Linked DNA regions of Homo sapiens: region 2 is linked to region 1. The links come from fine-mapping of genetic effects on plasma protein levels. A gene starts in region 1. The other region holds a variant in brackets. All regions are shown on one strand. Distances are between the middles of the regions.

Region 1 (8,333 bases):
TGGTGGTGACACAGCAAGACTCCATCTCAAAAAAAAAAAAAAAAAAAAGTAGAACTACCATTTGATCCAGCAGTCCCACTACTGAGTGTCTACCCAGAGGAAAAGAAGTCATTATACCAAAAAGATACTTGCACACTCATGTTTATAGCAGCACAATTTGCAATTGCAGAATCATGGAACCAACCCAAATGCCCATCAATCAACGAATGGAACAGAAATTGTGATAGAATAGAATACTACTCAGCCATAAAAAGGAATGAATTGGCCAGGCATGGTGGCTCACGCCGGTAATCCCAGCACTTTGAGAGGCTGAGACAGTCGGATCACAAGGTCAGGAGATCAAGACCATCCTGGCTAAAACAGTGAAACCCCGTCTCCACTAAAAATACAAAAAAAAAAAAAAAAAAAAAGTTAGCCAGGTGTGCTGGCAGGCACCTGTACAGCTACTCGGAGGCTGAGGCAGGAGAATGGCGCGAACCCGGGAGGCGGAGCTTGCAGTGAGCCGAGATCACGCCACTGCACTCCAGCCCGGGCGACAGAGCCAGACTCCGTCTCAAAAAAAAAAAAAAAAGGAATGAATTAACAGCATTTGCAGCAACCTAGATGAGATTGGAGACTATTATTCTAAGTGAAGTAACTCAGGAATGGAAAACCAAACATCGTATATTCTCACTGATATGTGGGAGCTAAGCTATGAGGATACAAAGGCATAAGAATGATACAATGGACTTGGGGACTTGGGGGGAAGCGTGGGGGAGGGGAAGGGATAAAAGACTACAAATAGGGTGCAGTATATACTTCTTGGGTGATGGGTACACCAAAATCTCATAAATCAGCACTAAAGAACTTACTTATGTAACCAAACACCACCTGTATGTACCCCAATAACCTATGGAAAAGAAAAAGTATATCAGAATTTCTCTAGGAAATATGTATTTCCAAAAAGCATATTTGATAATTTTACATGTACAAGATGAAAAAAAAAGCTTTTGAGATTTCAAAAAGTATTTAAGGAAGGTATGAGATTTTATATATTTACCAAAAGGGGAACATGGATTTAAAAAGATTGAGGAATTTCTACAAGTTTACGATGTTACTTCCGGTAGGTACTGAATAAGTGGTAAGTACACAAAGAAAAGTGGCAGATTCAAGTTCTATTGTTGTAACTGGACTAAAAATAATTTTTTTTTTTTGAGGTGGAGTTTTGCTCTTGTTACCCAGGCTGGAGTGCAGTGGCGCGATCTCGGCTCACTGCAACCTCTGCCTCCCGGGTTCAAGCGATTCTCCTGCCTCAGCCTCCCAACTAGCTGGGATTACAGGTATGCCCCACCATGCCTGGCTAATTTTGTATTTTTAGTAGAGATGCGATTTCTCGATGTTGGTCAGGCTGATCTTGAACTCCCGACCTCAGGTGATCTGCCCGCCTCGGCCTCAACAAAGTGCTGGGATTACAGGCATGAGCCACTGTGCCCGGCCATAAATATTTAACTGTACTAACTATTGAGTTGTAAACATTTTCAAAAGAAAACAATTTCTTAGTTGACACTTTACCAAGTTTGAGCAGTGATGGATTTAGGGGCATTCATCTCAACAAAGAACTTGGGGGCCACGTTAAATTTCATCTCAACAAGGTGGAACCTGTGTTTCCTGGATTGTGAAACACAGGACTTGATCCAGGGCAAAGGTCATAATTTGATCCAGTGTGCAAATGTGTCTTTTTTAGTCAGCATAGTTCCGTTCCTTTCTTTTTCTTTCTCCTTTCTCCTTTTCTTTTCTTTCTTTTAATCTCTGTCACCCAGACTGGAGTGCAGTGGTACAATCGCCACTCACTGCAGCCTACAGTCTCGACCTCCCAGGCTCAGGTGAATTCTCCCACCTCAGCCTCCCAAGTAGCTGGGACTGCATGCATGCACTACCACGCCCAGCTAATTTTGTATTTTTTGTAGAGATGGGTTTTCACCATGTTGCCCGGGCTGGTCTCGAACTCTTGAGCTCAAGCAATCCACCCACCTTGGCCTCCCAAAATGCTGGGATTATAGGCGTGAGCCACCATTCCCGGCAGTATTTTCTTTTCTGTTTTTTTTTTTTTTTTTTTTTTGTGTGTGTGTGTGTGTGTGTGTGTGTGTGTGGTTTGGTTGTTTTATTTGTTTGTTTGGTTGGTTTTTTTTGCACGTTCACAGTATTTTCTTTTTCTTTTTTTTTTTTTTGAGACGGAGTCTCGCTCTGTCACCCAGGCTGGAGTGCAGTGGCGCGATCTCAGCTCACTGCAAGCTCCACCTCCCAGGTTCACGCCATTCTCCTGCCTCAGCCTCCCGGGTAGTTGGGACTACAGGCGCCCACCAGCATGCCTGGCTAATTTTTTCTATTTTTTAGTAGCGACGGGGATTCACTGTGTTAGCCAGGATGGTCTCAATCTCCTGACCTCGTGATCTACCCGTCTCAGCCTCCCAAAGTGCTGGGATTACAGGTGTGAGCCACTGCACCCAGCCAGTATTTTCTTAAAGTTGTAATTAGTGGCCAACATTTAAAAATCAGATTTTAGGCCGGGTGCGGTGGCGCACACCTTTAATTGCAGCACTTTGGGAGGCCAAGGTGGGCAGACTGTTTGAGCCCAGGATTCAAGATCAGCCTGGGCATCCGAGATGGCAAAAACCCGTCTCTACAAAAAATACAAAAATTAACCAGGTGTGGTGGCACACTACTACAGTCCCAGCTACTGGGGAGGCTGAGGCAGAAGGATTACTTGAGTATGGGAGGTTGAGGCTGCAGTGAACTGGAATCACACCACTGAACTCCAGCCTGGGTGACAGATTGATACCCTGTCTCAAAAAAAAAATCAGATTTCAAATAAAACTATTAATTTCCAATTTGTCTTGAAAAATGGAAACACTCGGGCCCACATGTAACGGGTGGAGTAATGACTGCCCCCTTTTGACAAGTCATGCCTTTTCCAGCTTGTTATAGTCCATACCACTTTCTATTACTTGCCCCACCTCCTCATTTATACAGCCACTGCCACGTCTATTTCATATTGATTTGTTAGCAACCTGGTTTTGTAACTTTGTTTTCTGCTTCTTGGCTCATCAGAGAATGAGTAGCTACAGAATGGGTCAGATCAGGCTATGCCTCAGGGCACAAGATCCTCATTTGTTTCTCATCAGTGAGGCCCACAACCCAGGTATCCATTTTATAGTTGGATGAACAAAGAAAAGTAATGTGCACCAGGGGATGTAGCAAGTCAAGACCGAGTCAAGGCTAGAACCCAGGACTCCAGCCTCCTATCCACTTCAGAATGATTTTCAGTACATGACACCACTTCCCCATGAATCGGAGGTCTCCTATATGCTTGGCTTTAGCAGGCCCTGAGCAATGATATTTTCCACCCCCAAAGCCCTCTGTTGGTCTGTGCTCTTGAAGAGCACTTGGCTCTACATGGTACCTCCTAGATGACTGTTTTATGGATTTTCAATGAGGCTACTTAACCAGATGTCATTGCTGTCAAGTATTACTGTGGAAAATAGATCTGTCACCAACACTGCTTCATTAAACCATTTAATGAGAAAGGTGTTTAATGTTTTCCCCTGATCCTGACATGCAGCCATAACCTTTAGGATTAGTGAAATTTCCTGGGCAGTCAAATCAGACTGGTGATGTCTTGCTGCCCTGACTTACTGATGTTGGCAGGTGGACAGACCAGGGTTTTTCCTCCTTCCTTCCATATCTGTCTCAAGGCAGCATTTCTACAGCACTGCGTTGTGGACTGAGGTCTCAGGGCAGTGTGGTGGTCTCTCTGTCTCAGGAGTCCCTCCATTCAGTCTCTGGGCAGGAGCCGCATAATAAGATTCCACACACCCATACCACTCACGAAGGCCATGGGCCTTCCAGGGATCTCGGATCCCAGGCTGTTCTTCCTTGGGGGAGTGGCCTGGTTCTAAAACCAGGCCTTGAACTACATCTACAAAACATCTATTGTGGATTATTTATTATCCAAGGGGCAAGCCACTGTGCTAGACGGCTTGCAAGGCCTGCTATTGTAGAAGGTTATGAAACAAGTCAGTTTTAACGAACTTCTTTTTCTTCACCTGTACCTAGTTTCTTCCTCAGTCCTTAAAGCAGATGGAAGAGTTAAAGCCCACGTGGAGCAAATGACACTCTGTTTCTGATCTGATTCTCCCCGCCTCTTAGAGACGCTGTCTTGGTAGTGACCTGGCTGTGGGTTGTTCTGTGACTGTGTAGACCTACCTCAAAAGAGGGAAGAGGGGGGAAAAAGGGGCGAGGAGGAGATGCTTGGGTGGCCAGGCCATTGCTGGCACTCAGTCTATCTCAGTTCGTACACTGTGTTAGGTGTGACCCCAGCCCCTTGCAGGCACCCTGGGCTTCCTGCTCCAGTTCCCCTTGTTCGGCTCGGATGCACCGGGAGGCTGCTGCGCCCTCTCCGGACAGGTGCCCCGGGCCTCGCCTACACCTCACCTCCCCCTCCCACTGTACCCCCGGCCGGTGCGCGCTCTGACACTCACCGGCTGCGAGAGGCAGCGGCGACGGCGGCAGCAGCAGCAGCAACATCAGGACTACGGGCGGCAGCGGTCGCGGGTTCAGGGGGCGCACCATGGCGAGCTGTAGGCGCCGGGCTCCGCGCTCCCCTCGCTCCTCCCCTGGAGCTCTGAGAGCGGGGCTCCCTCGACCGGCACCTCCCGCCCCCGCCTCCCGCCCTCCAGCGCGACGCACACACTCTCCCACCAGGGTCCTGGGCGCCGCCCTCCAACTCCGAAGCGCGCGTCCACACCACGCGCCTCCAGCGCTGGTCCGAGGGACCGCGGGGGTGGGGGCGGGGGAGGGCCGGCGCCCCGGGAGCCGCCGGGCTTGGTGCGGAAGAGGTTGCTCTTTCCGAGGCGGCCCACCTGCTGTCTGACAAGTTCGACTAGCAAGACATTGTGGAAGCTGCCGCTGGAAACTCGCCATCTAGGAGAACCAAATATTTCTCCAAGAAAAGCACCCTTTCTCACTTTCTGGATCCCACTCACCCACACATCAAAGAACAGACACCACCACAAAAGAGATTTTGTAACAAAACTTGAACAAGCCAACACAAGGGCACTTGCATTTCTAGTATTTTTCTTAGAATTTGCACATCTATGATCTCGTTTTTTCCTCTCCTAAGTGTCTTCTAGGGTAAGATTGGGTGGTTATTAAGCTCAAGATGCTGCAAAGATGGGTCGCAGACAGGTGGAATGGCTTTGCTGGGGGAGCAGACCTGGGGCATTAGATTCCAAAATTCAGCCCCGATGGTGTCGTGAGGGAAGATGGAAGATTAAACTCTCCACTAAATAGCAGAGATTTCCTTGGACCAAAGCTCACTGAGGAAGGTGCCTGGAGAGACCATTTAGGAGCCCATCCTTTTCACATGATGAGACTTTCGGAGAGCAAGCTACTCTATCAGGATTAAACAACTAGGTAGAAACACATCTGTGCCCAGAACACAGGACGTCTACCCATAAGGATAAGGGTATTTATTGGGCCTGGGCCTGATTCCCACAAGATCCCAGGATAAAGCCAGAAGCAGAATGGCTTGGAAGAATGAGAACTAAGCAGCGCATAGAAAGAGAGAAGGAGAAGAGGGTGATGAAAGGAAGTGGAGGGTTTCATCCCCTAACCCTCTAACTTGACCCCCTCCTTACTTCCACAGCCAGCCTGGCAGAGGGCCAGCAGGGAGTACTGAGAATCGCAATATAAACCTCTGAGATTTATTGGCTGCTGCTTCTGAATATGGCCATCCTGCTGTGGCCTCTGGGGGGCATTTGCCGATGTAATCAGCCCAGAAAGAGAGTCATTCCAGCTGGGGGTGTAAATCACCCTTGGCAAAGCTAGGAGAGAGACATGTGGCCCTAGATAAGGAAGGAGACTGATGTGGCCTCTGTGCCCTTCCCTCCCTTCTCCTGCCCAGGGGGTGCTGGTTCCTGAGCTGTAATGCACTTTAAATGGAGTTTGTCCTTCGTTTTAATCTATATCTGCCCTGCCAGTTTTACAGAAGAGCTGTAAAAGTGAACATCTGGCTACTCAGCTTTTGTACAAGGCCTGTTTTCCCCCAGCTCCACCCTATCTCCATGTGCCTTTCCCAAGCCCTCCTCTCCAGAAAGGTGAGGGAACATGAAGCTGGGGGGCTACCATTAAAGGCCCCATGATGTCAGGCCCTCTACCCCATTGCCAGAGAGAAATATGCTCCAGGCACCTCATTTTCTCTCACACCTGCTATTACAGGCAGACAATCGTTTTTTGGGTTTTTTTTTTTGAAACTGACAATACTTAAGAAAGGAATTTATAAAGCAAAATGTAACAATTTCAGGCTCTTTGGGATGATAGGAAAGGGCTGAGACCCATGAACCAACAAAGATGTGAGGTGGTCAAGGGGTGTCTCCTCTGCCCTCCCCCTCCTCCAGCCCAAGCCAAATCATGTTATGGGCAGGAAGAGGGTTTGGGAAAGGAAGTTTGCTCAGGGTGCCTACTCTGATAGATACTCAGTGTCTATTCCAGGGCTGTCCCCACAGAATAGACCAAGAATGCAGTATCAAGCTGACGGGCTGGGAGCAATGACCAATCCCACCTGTAACAGGCCAGCCTTTTCATGAGAGAAAATAAAGTGTCTGGTGCATATTTCTGTCTGGGTACAGGGGTGGAGAGCCTCATATCATTGGGCCTTTAATGAGGATTGGAGAAGCTCTGCAAATAAATATGACTCCAAGACTAATATTGACAGCCCTCCAGCACACCCTCTCCACCAACCATGTCCTCTGTGACTGCCAACACCTGCTAGATAAGCAGCATTGCCCCTTGTGGACAATGACAAATGAGCCAGTCCTTTCTACAGAGATGATGTTACTCATCCATCATTCAATTCAATAATGTGTTTTGAGAATGATTATGAGCCCAGCTTTATGCTAGGTGCAAAATGATTAAGACACAAATCCTGCTCGGGGAGGGTGTTACAATCCACTGATTGCAACTCAAATGCCCAAAGACCCTGTATCTTATTCCACTTTCACTTGTAATCTCAATTTTCTCCTCTTATGGTCAGATTACATGGATTCTACCTTCTCTCAAGTCCTCTCTCTCTCCATTGAGCTTTAATTCCTGCTGCTATCCTAATCCAGGATGTTAGCAGTATAATAAATAGTTAAGACCACAAGCTTTACAGACTGCCTAGATTCAAATGCCGACACTAGCTGGATGACCTTGGGCAAGTCACTTAATTTTTCTGTGCTTCCATTTCTTCACCTGTAAAATTAAGGATAATAGTATCTATTTCACATTGTGAGGATTAAATGAGTATAGTATTTAAATGAAGGTGTAGGCTGGGCGCGGTGGCTCACGCCTGTAATCCCAGCACTTTGGGAGGCCAAGGTGGGCGGATCACGAGGTCAGGAGTTCAAGACCAGCCTGGCCAATATGATGAAACCCCATCTCTACTAAAATTACAAAGATTAGCCGGGCATGGTGGCACATGCCTGTATTCCCAGCTACTCGGGAGGCTCAGTGGGGCAGAAGAATTGCTTGAACCCAGGAGGCGGAGGTTGCAGTGAGCCAAGATCATGCTATTGCACTCCAGCCTGGGCAGTAGAGCGAGACTCCGACTCAAAAAAAAAAAAAGAAAAGAAAAAAAAAGGTGTAGCATTATACCTGGCATATAGCAAGCATCGAATAAATATCATCCCAGGTAGCATGCAGGAGTTAATTATTCTGTGTGTGAACTTGGCCAGACCCCACCACCCGACCTGCTGATTTGGAGCTGGAAGTGGCACTTTTTGCTCCTTTTGCTGAATATACTACTAGACCAGAGTGCTTGTAGGGATGGAAACAAAAAGAGCCATTTTTTATTTTTCTACCTTGTCAATTTCTTGAGGGCAGGGACTGTGTCATATTTTAACAACTGTGATACTCAGAATTGGCAACTCCAGATGCATATGTTTAAAGGAATTGGTGTTTCCTTAACCTATGCCTGAACAGAACAGGGAGAGAATCCCCCATGCCTCCTACTTTATACTCCTGATAAAGAAAGGGAAATATTCCTCCTTAATATAGTTTGGATATTTGTCCCCACCCAAATCTCATGATGAAATGTAATCCCTAATGTTGGAGGTGGGGCCTGGTGGAGGTGTCTGGATCATGGGGGTGGATCCTTCATGAATGGCTTGGGCCATTCTCTTGGGGATAAGTGAGCTGTCACTGAGTTCACAAGAGATCCAGTCATTTAAAAGTGTGTGGCACCTCCTCCCATAACTCCCTCCCTCTCTTGCTCCTGCTCTGGATATGTGACATGTCTGCTTCTCCTTCACCTTCTG
Region 2 (8,333 bases), 230 kb after region 1:
CTGGCCAATCCTTGTTCTTATGAATCTTTCTTAAATGTGTATATAGCTAACATTTTATTTATTTATTTATTTATTTTTTGAGATGGAGTCTTGCTCTGTCACCCAGGCTGGAGTGCAGTGGCACGATCTCGGCTCACTGCAAGCTCCGCCTCCTGGGTTCATGCCATTCTCCTGCCTCAGCCTCTGGAGTAGCTGGGACTACAGGTGCCTGCCACCACGCCTGGCTAATTTTTTGTATTTTTAGTAGAGACGGGGTTTCACCATGTTGGGCAGAATGGTCTCGATCTCTTGACCTTGTGATCTGCCCGCCTCGGCCTCCCCAAGTGCTTGGATTACAGGCATGAGCCACTGCACCCGGCCAGCTCACATTTATTTCATTTTGAGACAGTCTTGCTCTGTCACCCAGGCTGGAGTGCAGGTGTGGTCTCAGCTCACTGCAACTTCCACCTCCAGGTTCAAGAGATTCTCCTGCCTCAGCTTCTGGGATTATAGCTGTGTGCCACCACGCCTGGCTAATTTTTGTATTTTTGTAGAGAAGGGGCTTCGCCATGTTGGCCAGGCTGGTCTCGAACTCCTGACCTCAAGCAATCTGCCTGCCTCAGCCTCCCAAAGTGCTGGGATTACAGGCACAAGCCACTGCACCCAGCTTCACTTTAATGTTTAATATTAGAAGTTGGTGGGGCATGGTGGTTCATGCCTGTAATCCTGGTGTTTTGCAGGGCCAAGGCAGGAGGATCACTTGAGACCAGGAGTTCAAAACCAGTCTGGGCAACAGTGAGACCCCAACTCTATTAAAAATTAAAAAAAAATTAGCTGGGCATGGTGGCACACACCTATAGTACAGGCTACTCAGGAGGCTGAGGTGGGAGGTTTGCTTGAGCCCAGTAGGTAGAGTATGCAGTGAGCCATGATCCTGTCACTGTATGCCAGCCTGGGCAACAGAAAGAGACTCTGTCTCAAAAAAAGATCAAACAAATAAACATACTACAACGTAACATAAATCAAAACAATGTGGTACTGGTATAATAAAGTTAGAAATACAAACCTATATATCTATATCAGTTGTATATGGGATTATTATACCATACCCAGTTGGCCATAGGTATATGGGATTATTTCTGAGTTCAGAAGTAATTCAGAGAGTTCAGAGTTCAGAAATAATCCCATATACCTATGGTCAACTGATTTTCTCCAAGGGAGCAAAGAGCATTAAATGGGGGAAATAATAGTTTCATCAACAAAATGGTGCTTGCACAACTTTTTTTTTTTTTTTTTTTTTTTTTTTTTTTTTTGAGACAGGGTCTTGCTCTGTCACTCAGGCTGGAGTGCAGTGGCAGCACCATGGCTCACTGCAGCCTTGACTTCCGAAGCTTAAGTGATCTTCCCACGACAGCCTCCCCAGTAGCTGGGACCACAGGTGAGTGCCACCACATCCAGCTAACTTTTTTGTAGAGATGGGGTCTCCCTATGTTGTCCAGGCTGGTCTTGAACTCCTGGGCTCAAGTGATCCTTTTGCCTTGGGCTCTCAATGTGTTGGGATTACAGGTGTGAGCCACAATGCCCAACCCCACAACAACTAGATACTCACATGCAAAAGTATGATGTCAGACCCCTGACCTCATACCATATGCAAAAACTAACTCAAAATGGGCCAGTGACACATAATAGATAGGGTCTTGCTCTGTCATCCATGCTGGAGTGAGATGGCACAGTCATAGCTTATTGCAACCTCAAACTCATGGGCTCAAACAATCCTCCTGCTTCAGCCTCCCAAGCAGCTATGACTACAGGTGTGCACCACCACACCCAGCTAATTTTTAAATTTTTTGTAGAGTTGAGGTCTTGCTATGTTGCCCAGGCTGGCCTTGAACTCCTGGCTTCAAACCATCTTCCTGCCTTGGCCTATCAATGTGCTGGGATTATAGGCAGAAGCCACTGTGCCTGGGCTAAAACTCTAAGAGAAGAAAACATGGGTAAATCATGACCTTGGATTTGGCAAACAACAGATATGGCAACAACAGAAAAACAGATAAATTGAACTTCACCAAAATTAGTTTTGTGCATCAGAAGACATTATCAAGAAAGTGAAAATACTTGCAAATAATATATCTAATAAGGGTTTGGTATCTAGAGTATAAAGAACTGTTATAACTCAACAAGATAAACCAATTCAAGATGGGCGAAGGAGTTGAATAGACATTTCTCCAAAGATATACAGTATCAACCCACGAGAAACAAAAAACATATATTCACACAAAGACTAGTATGTGAATGTTCATAGCAGCATTATTCAAACAGCTAAAAACTGGACACCGTCCAAATATCCACCAGTGGAAGAGATAAACAAAATGCGGTATATTCATACAATGGAATACTACTTTTGTGCTGTTTTACCCACAACACTTCTGACACCAAATGTGTGGAGTTTTGTTCCCACATCAACCTATTCTCCAACTCTCCAGACACAACTTGGTGTCCTACAATTCAACTCAATTCTGACACTAATACCCTAAGTTAACAGACCCCACAGATTAAGGGTTCAGTTCCATAAGACTGCCCCAATATTAGATGCCAGTCACAAGTTACCACCTGTACTTCTGACTAACTGGCTGTAAGGGGTTCCCATGACCCCCTCTTCAAGTTTGATAATTTGCTAGAACAGCTCACAGAACTCAGGAAAAATCTACACATTATGGTAGGTTATTATAAAGGATACAACTCAACAGAACAGATGCATAGGGCAAGGTATGGGTGCAGAGCTTTCATCCCCTCTCTGGGCATGCTACCCTCCCAGCACTTCAATGTGTTCACCAACCTGGAAGCTTCCTGAACCCCATCATTTAGGGGGTTTTATGGAGGTCTCATTATATAGGGATGATTGATAAAATCATTGGCCATCAGTGATTAAGTCAACCTCCAGCCCCTTTCCGCTCTCTGGAGGTGGGAGGCAGGTGCTGAAAGCTGCACTTTTTTTTTTTTTTTTTTTTTTTTTTTTTTGGAGACAGGTCTAGCTCTGTTGCCCAGGCTGGAATGCAGTGGAGTGATCTTGGCTCACTGCAGCTTCTGCCTCCCAGGTTCAAGCGATTCTCCTGCCTCAGCCTCCTGAGTAGCTGGGATTACAGGCATATGCCACCAGGCCCAGCTAATGTTTTTTTGTATTTTTAGTAGAGACAGGATTTCACCATGTTAGTCAGGCTGGTCTTGAACTCCTAACCTCAAATGATCTGCCCGCCTTGGCCTCCCAAAGTGCTGGGATTACAGGCATGAGGCACCGCGCCTGGCCCAAAAGCTCTACTCTCTAATCACGTTTTGGTCGTTCTGGTGACCAGTCCCCATCCTGAAGCTACCTAGGGGCCCCCAGTCATCAGTAATCATATTAGCATAGAAAAGACACTCTCATCACTCTGGAGATTCCATGGGTTTTAGGAGCTGCATGCCAGGAAAGGAGTGGAGCAAAGACCTGTATATGTATTTCTTATTGTATCATACTACTCAACAATAAAAATGAACATGCAACAGGCTGGGCATGGTGACTCACACCTGTAATCCTAGCACTGGGAGGCTGAGGCGGGAGGATCACTTAGAGCTAGGAGTTCAAGACCACCCTGAGCAACATAAGGAGACCCCATCTCTATAAAAAATATATATATATACAAAAAATAGCCTGACATGGTGGTGTAATCCCAGCTACTTGGGAGGCTGAGGCGAGAGAATCACTTGAGCTCAGGAGATCAAGGCTGCAGTGAGCTGTTATTGAGCCACTGCACTCCAGCCTAGGTGACAGAGTGAGACTCCATCTCAAAAAAAAAAAAAAGAAAGAAAGATAGGATAGATGTATCTCAAAAATTTATCTAAATGAAAGAAGCTTCACATAAAAGACTACATGTTGTGCTTTTCCATTAATATAAAAATTTCTAGGAAGGCCAGAACTGTAGAGGTAGAAAGCAGATCAGTAGCAGCTGGGCGTGGTGGCTAATGCCTATAATCCCAGCACTTTGGGAGGCCAAGGTGGGCAGATAACATGAGGCCAGGAGTTTGAGACCAGCCTGGCCAACATGGTGAAAC[C/G]TCGTCTCTACTAAAAATAGCAAAATTAGCTGGGCGTGGTGGCAGGCACCTATAGTCCTAGTTACTCAGGAGGCTGAGGCATAAGAATTGCTTGAACCCGGGAGGCGGAGGTTTCAGTGAGCTGAGATCGCGCCACTGCACTCCAGCCTGGGCGACAGAGCAAGGCTCTGTCTCCAAAAATAAAAAATAAAAAAAAAACAAAGCAAGTAGATTGATCAGTAGTTGCCCAGGGTTGGATGTGGGAACAGAGATTGACTGCAAAAGAGCACAAATAATCTTTTTGGGATGCTGAACATTAAGTTGTGAGTTGTGGGATGTTTACATAACTATACAAATTTACTTTTTTTTTTTTTTTTTTGAGACAGAGTCTCACTGTCACCCAGGCTGGAGTGCAGTGGTGGGATCTTGGCTCACTGCAGCCTCCACCTTCCGGGATCAAGATATTAGAGGCCAGGCGTGTAGGCCTGGCCTACACACATTTACTTTTAAAAATAAATAGCCAAACTATACCTACAGTGGGTTAATTTTATAGTTTGTAAATTATACCTCAATAAAGCTGTTAATAAACAAACCACAGAAATGACAGCAGGATGAAAAAACCAGTGTCCTAGCCGGGCACGGTGGCTCACACCTGTAATCTCAGCACTTTAGGAGTCCAAGGCGGGCGGATCACGAGGTCAGGAGATCGAGACCATTCTGGCCAACATGGTGAAACCCTGTCTCTACTAAAAATACAAAAATTAGCCAGGTGTGATGGCGCACGCCTGTAGTCCCAGATACTCGGGAGGCTGAGGCAGGAGAATCACTTGAACCCAGGAGGTGGAGGTTGCAGTGAGCCGAGGGCACGCCACTGCACTCCAGCCTGGCAACACAGAGAGACTCTGTCTCAAAAAAAAAAAAAAAAAAAAAAAAAAAAAAAAAAAAAAAGAAAGAAAGAAAAAGAAAAAAGAAAAGAAAAGAAAAGAAAAGAAAAAACAGTGTCCTGAAATCTGAATGTCTTCCTGGCCTTTGGATCCAGTCAGGACTGATCCACGTGCCTCTCCAAACTCACCCTCTCATCTCTCCAGCTAACCCAGGTCCCCACATAGACCTAGCACCCCCAGAGGAGGAAGGAGCCACCCTGCACTCCCCTTGTCCTTTAACACTCATTGTCATTCCTTGTTCAGAGTCTCCACTGCTGGACCTTCAACACCGAAGGGCAGGGTGTGCACCTGCACTGTTTGCCACTGAATCTTGCACGGGACCTAGTACACGGGACATGTCTAAATGCTTGCTGAGTCAAGGAATGAGACTGGCTTAACCCAAGTCTCATTTAAGGAATAGAGGTGGCCGTGGAGTGCGTCTGTGGAGAAGGCTGGAGGAGACTGGGGTAGAACTCCTTCCATGTTACCTTTCAGAATCAGAGCCCGACAGGGGTGCAAGGGAGGGCCTCTAGCCCTGAGCACAGAAATTCGTCTTTATCTGGAGGAGCAACTCTCTCCCAGGCAACATCCTGCCTTATTACAAAGAGTCCCCCTCTGCAGGCCCTCCAGGCCCACCCCAGCTGGCTCATGTTGCCTTTCCCCACCAGAGAGCCTAGGCTGGGCATGTCTTTGGGTCTGGACAGTAATACAACATGGGGCAGAGGGTCCTGGCATCATCAAGCCCTGATTTCTCCTCATGCCTTCTCCCAGGAATCGGAATATCTCTGCATCTTTGCCTCTCAGAAGATCCTTGCCATTCCTGCTCGGAGCCTTTCTCTCAAGTTTCCACCCTCCTTCCTTATTCTCCTGGCTTCCTTGGAAATGGGTTTGCCCTCTAGCTTTGAGTGGGGATGGACAGGCAAGCAGAAGGGGCTAAGCCTAGGTATAGTATCTCAGCAGAGTGGGAGGAGCTGGAAGTCTGTGGCAGTCAGGGAGAGCTAGATGGGGCTAATTTGGAAGGCCGGGGGCTGAAGAAGCAAGTTGATCCACACACCCAAGCCAACCTTGACTCACAGGGAAGTGACTTCAAACAGCTTTCATAACTCCATCTGGATGTTGGCCACCTTTCCTCTCCTAGCTCTTTGGTTTCAGGCCACGTGCTCCCTCCAATTGTCCCTTCTCTCATTTATAACATTAGAGAGAACAGGGCCTGGATGAAGAATAACAAGATCATCCGGCTGTTAAGAGCACCGAATCTGGAGTTGGAGCAAGTGTTCATGTTGGCTCTGCTAATTTGCTGCATGAGCCTGACAGGTCACTATATTCCTCTCTGGCCTCAGCTTTCTTCTGTCTTTAGTGAGGGGATTGGAATAGGTAAGGTGCAAGACCCTTTCTAGTGCTAAAATTAAGGGGCCCGGCACAGTGGCACACACCTGGAATTCCAACACTTTGGGAGACAGAGGCGGGCCAATCACTTGAGCTCAGGAATTCAAGACCAGCCTGGGGAGGCTGGGCACAGTGGCTCACGCTTGTAATCCCAGCACTTTGGGAGGCTGAGGCGGGCGGATCACAAGGTCGGGAGATCAACACCATCCTGGCTAACACGGCGAAACCCTGCCTCTACTAAAAAAACAAAAACAAAAAATTAGCCGGGCGTGGTGGCTGGCGTCTGTGGTCCCAGCTACTCAGGAGGCTGAGGCAGGAGAATGGCATGAACCTGGGAGGCAGAGCTTGCAGTGAGCCGAGATCGCACCCCTGCACTCCAGTCTGGGTGACAGAGCAAGACTCCATCTCAAAAAAAAAAAAACACCCAGGCTGGGCAACATGGCGAAACCTCATCTCTACAAAAACAACAAAAAACCAAAAATTAGCCAGGTGTGGTGGTGTGTGCCTGCAGTCCCAGCTACTCGGGAGGCTGAGGTGGGAGGATCGCTTGATCCTGGGAGGTTGAGGCTGTAGTGAGCCAAGACTGCACCACTGCATTCCAGCTTGGGTGACAGAGTAAGACCCTGTCTCAAAAAAAAAAAAAAAAATTAGGTGCTAAAATTATAATTCCTTAAGAAGTCTAAGTATTGGGTATTGTGGAGAAAAGCTATATAAAGGTATGGCTGTAGACTAAGGACTAGAGTCGAATGAGACTCTTTCTGAGAGTCCTTTCTGAGAATGGGCTTGACATTCCCAGGTACAGCTTTGCCTTCTTCTCATCACTTCCAGGATTGCTCACCTACTTGGGGCCAAGGGCCCCCCAGGAAGCCCTTCTTCATGCTGTTTTATTTCACTCTGTAGGGATGACCTGCATTTGCACTGGCTTTGGAACCAAACAGACCTGACTTTGAGTCCCAGATTTTGCCACTTAGTAGAACGTGGATGGGAAGATATAAACAGCATCTCCCTCACTACGTTTTTCTAAGGATTACATAACTGTTCAACAAATGTCAGTGACTATAGTTACTTCACAGACGGATAGCTCAAAGCCCAGAATAAGGAGTAAGAAAACTGGGCAGAGCTGGATTGAGACTCCTGGGATCTCCTCTCCGTTCACTCATCCCTACTCCTTTGTTAAACTGCCCTCTCCACTTTCCTAAAATTTAAGGGCAAAGCAAGTTGTCCCAGGCACCTCTTAATGCTTGTCAGAAATCCCCCCTACTTCAGATGAAGCAAATTTCTTCCAGTCAGCATCCTTAACTCTATACCACCACCTTGTGGTCACCAGCACAAACTTTCCCTGGCCACTTCCAGAGGACCAAGGTTGGGAGAGGAAGAACCATGAGTAGCTGCCATCCCAGTCCTTGCTAAGTGCCTTCATGTGCCTTACTCCATTTAATCCTTATTACAGGTGGTGAAACTGCTACTCAAAGACATGGAATAATTTGCCAGCCTCTCAGGTGGCGCCAGGATTTCTACCTCAGACCTCAGAGATCCTGCTTCCTACTGCACTCTCCTGATAGCTTCCTGGGAAGCTGGCTGGCACGGCACTTCAGATTCAGGGACTGCCTGATACTGTGAAGTCACAAACCCAGTTAACTGCAGAGCCAGAGCCTTTTTTTCTTTTTTTCGAGACAGTCTCTCTGTCGCCCAGGCTGGAGTGCAGTGGTGCCATCTCGTCTCACTGCAACCTCTGCCTCCCAGGTTCAAGCAATTCTTGTGCCTCAGCCTCCTGAGTAGCTGGGATTACAGGCGCCCACCACCTGTTCGGCTAGTTTTTGTAATTTCAGTAGAGACGGGGTTTCACCATGTTGGTCAGGCTGGTCTTGAACTCCTGACCTCGGGTGATCCACCTGCCTTGGCCTCCTGAAGTGTTGGGTTTACAGGCGTGAGCCATGGTGCCCAGCAGAACCAGAGCTTTTCTTGACTCCCTTGTTTGGT

Which allele goes with the higher level. Positions count from the first base shown, and alleles are read on the strand shown. Strength reflects both the effect of a copy and how common the allele is.
As copies of G replace C in region 2, the plasma level of the protein whose gene starts at base 4,805 in region 1 goes down (weak association).

Evidence for each region. A credible set is the group of variants that fine-mapping cannot tell apart. PIP is the chance, under the fine-mapping model, that this variant and not a neighbour inherited with it causes the effect. Protein levels are from antibody-based Olink assays in UK Biobank. Linkage for the fine-mapping came from a reference panel and not from the study's own genotypes, which makes the PIPs less certain.
Region 2: its variant is the best candidate, but not a certain one, in a credible set for the plasma level of the GFRA3 protein (UK Biobank, PIP 0.57).

Annotation. Positions count from the first base shown.
Region 1 is chr5:138,269,817-138,278,149 of GRCh38, forward strand. It overlaps GFRA3 (GDNF family receptor alpha 3), which reads right to left and starts at 4,805. Exons shown (of 8, transcript NM_001496.4): 1 at 4,518-4,805. The coding sequence starts at 4,608. RefSeq lists silencers at 4,528-4,717, 4,808-4,897.
Region 2 is chr5:138,496,270-138,504,602 of GRCh38, forward strand. No RefSeq gene overlaps it. Among named protein-coding and RNA genes, the nearest start is that of EGR1, 35 kb to the left of the region's middle. The variant C/G (reference allele first, on the strand shown) is at 4,066.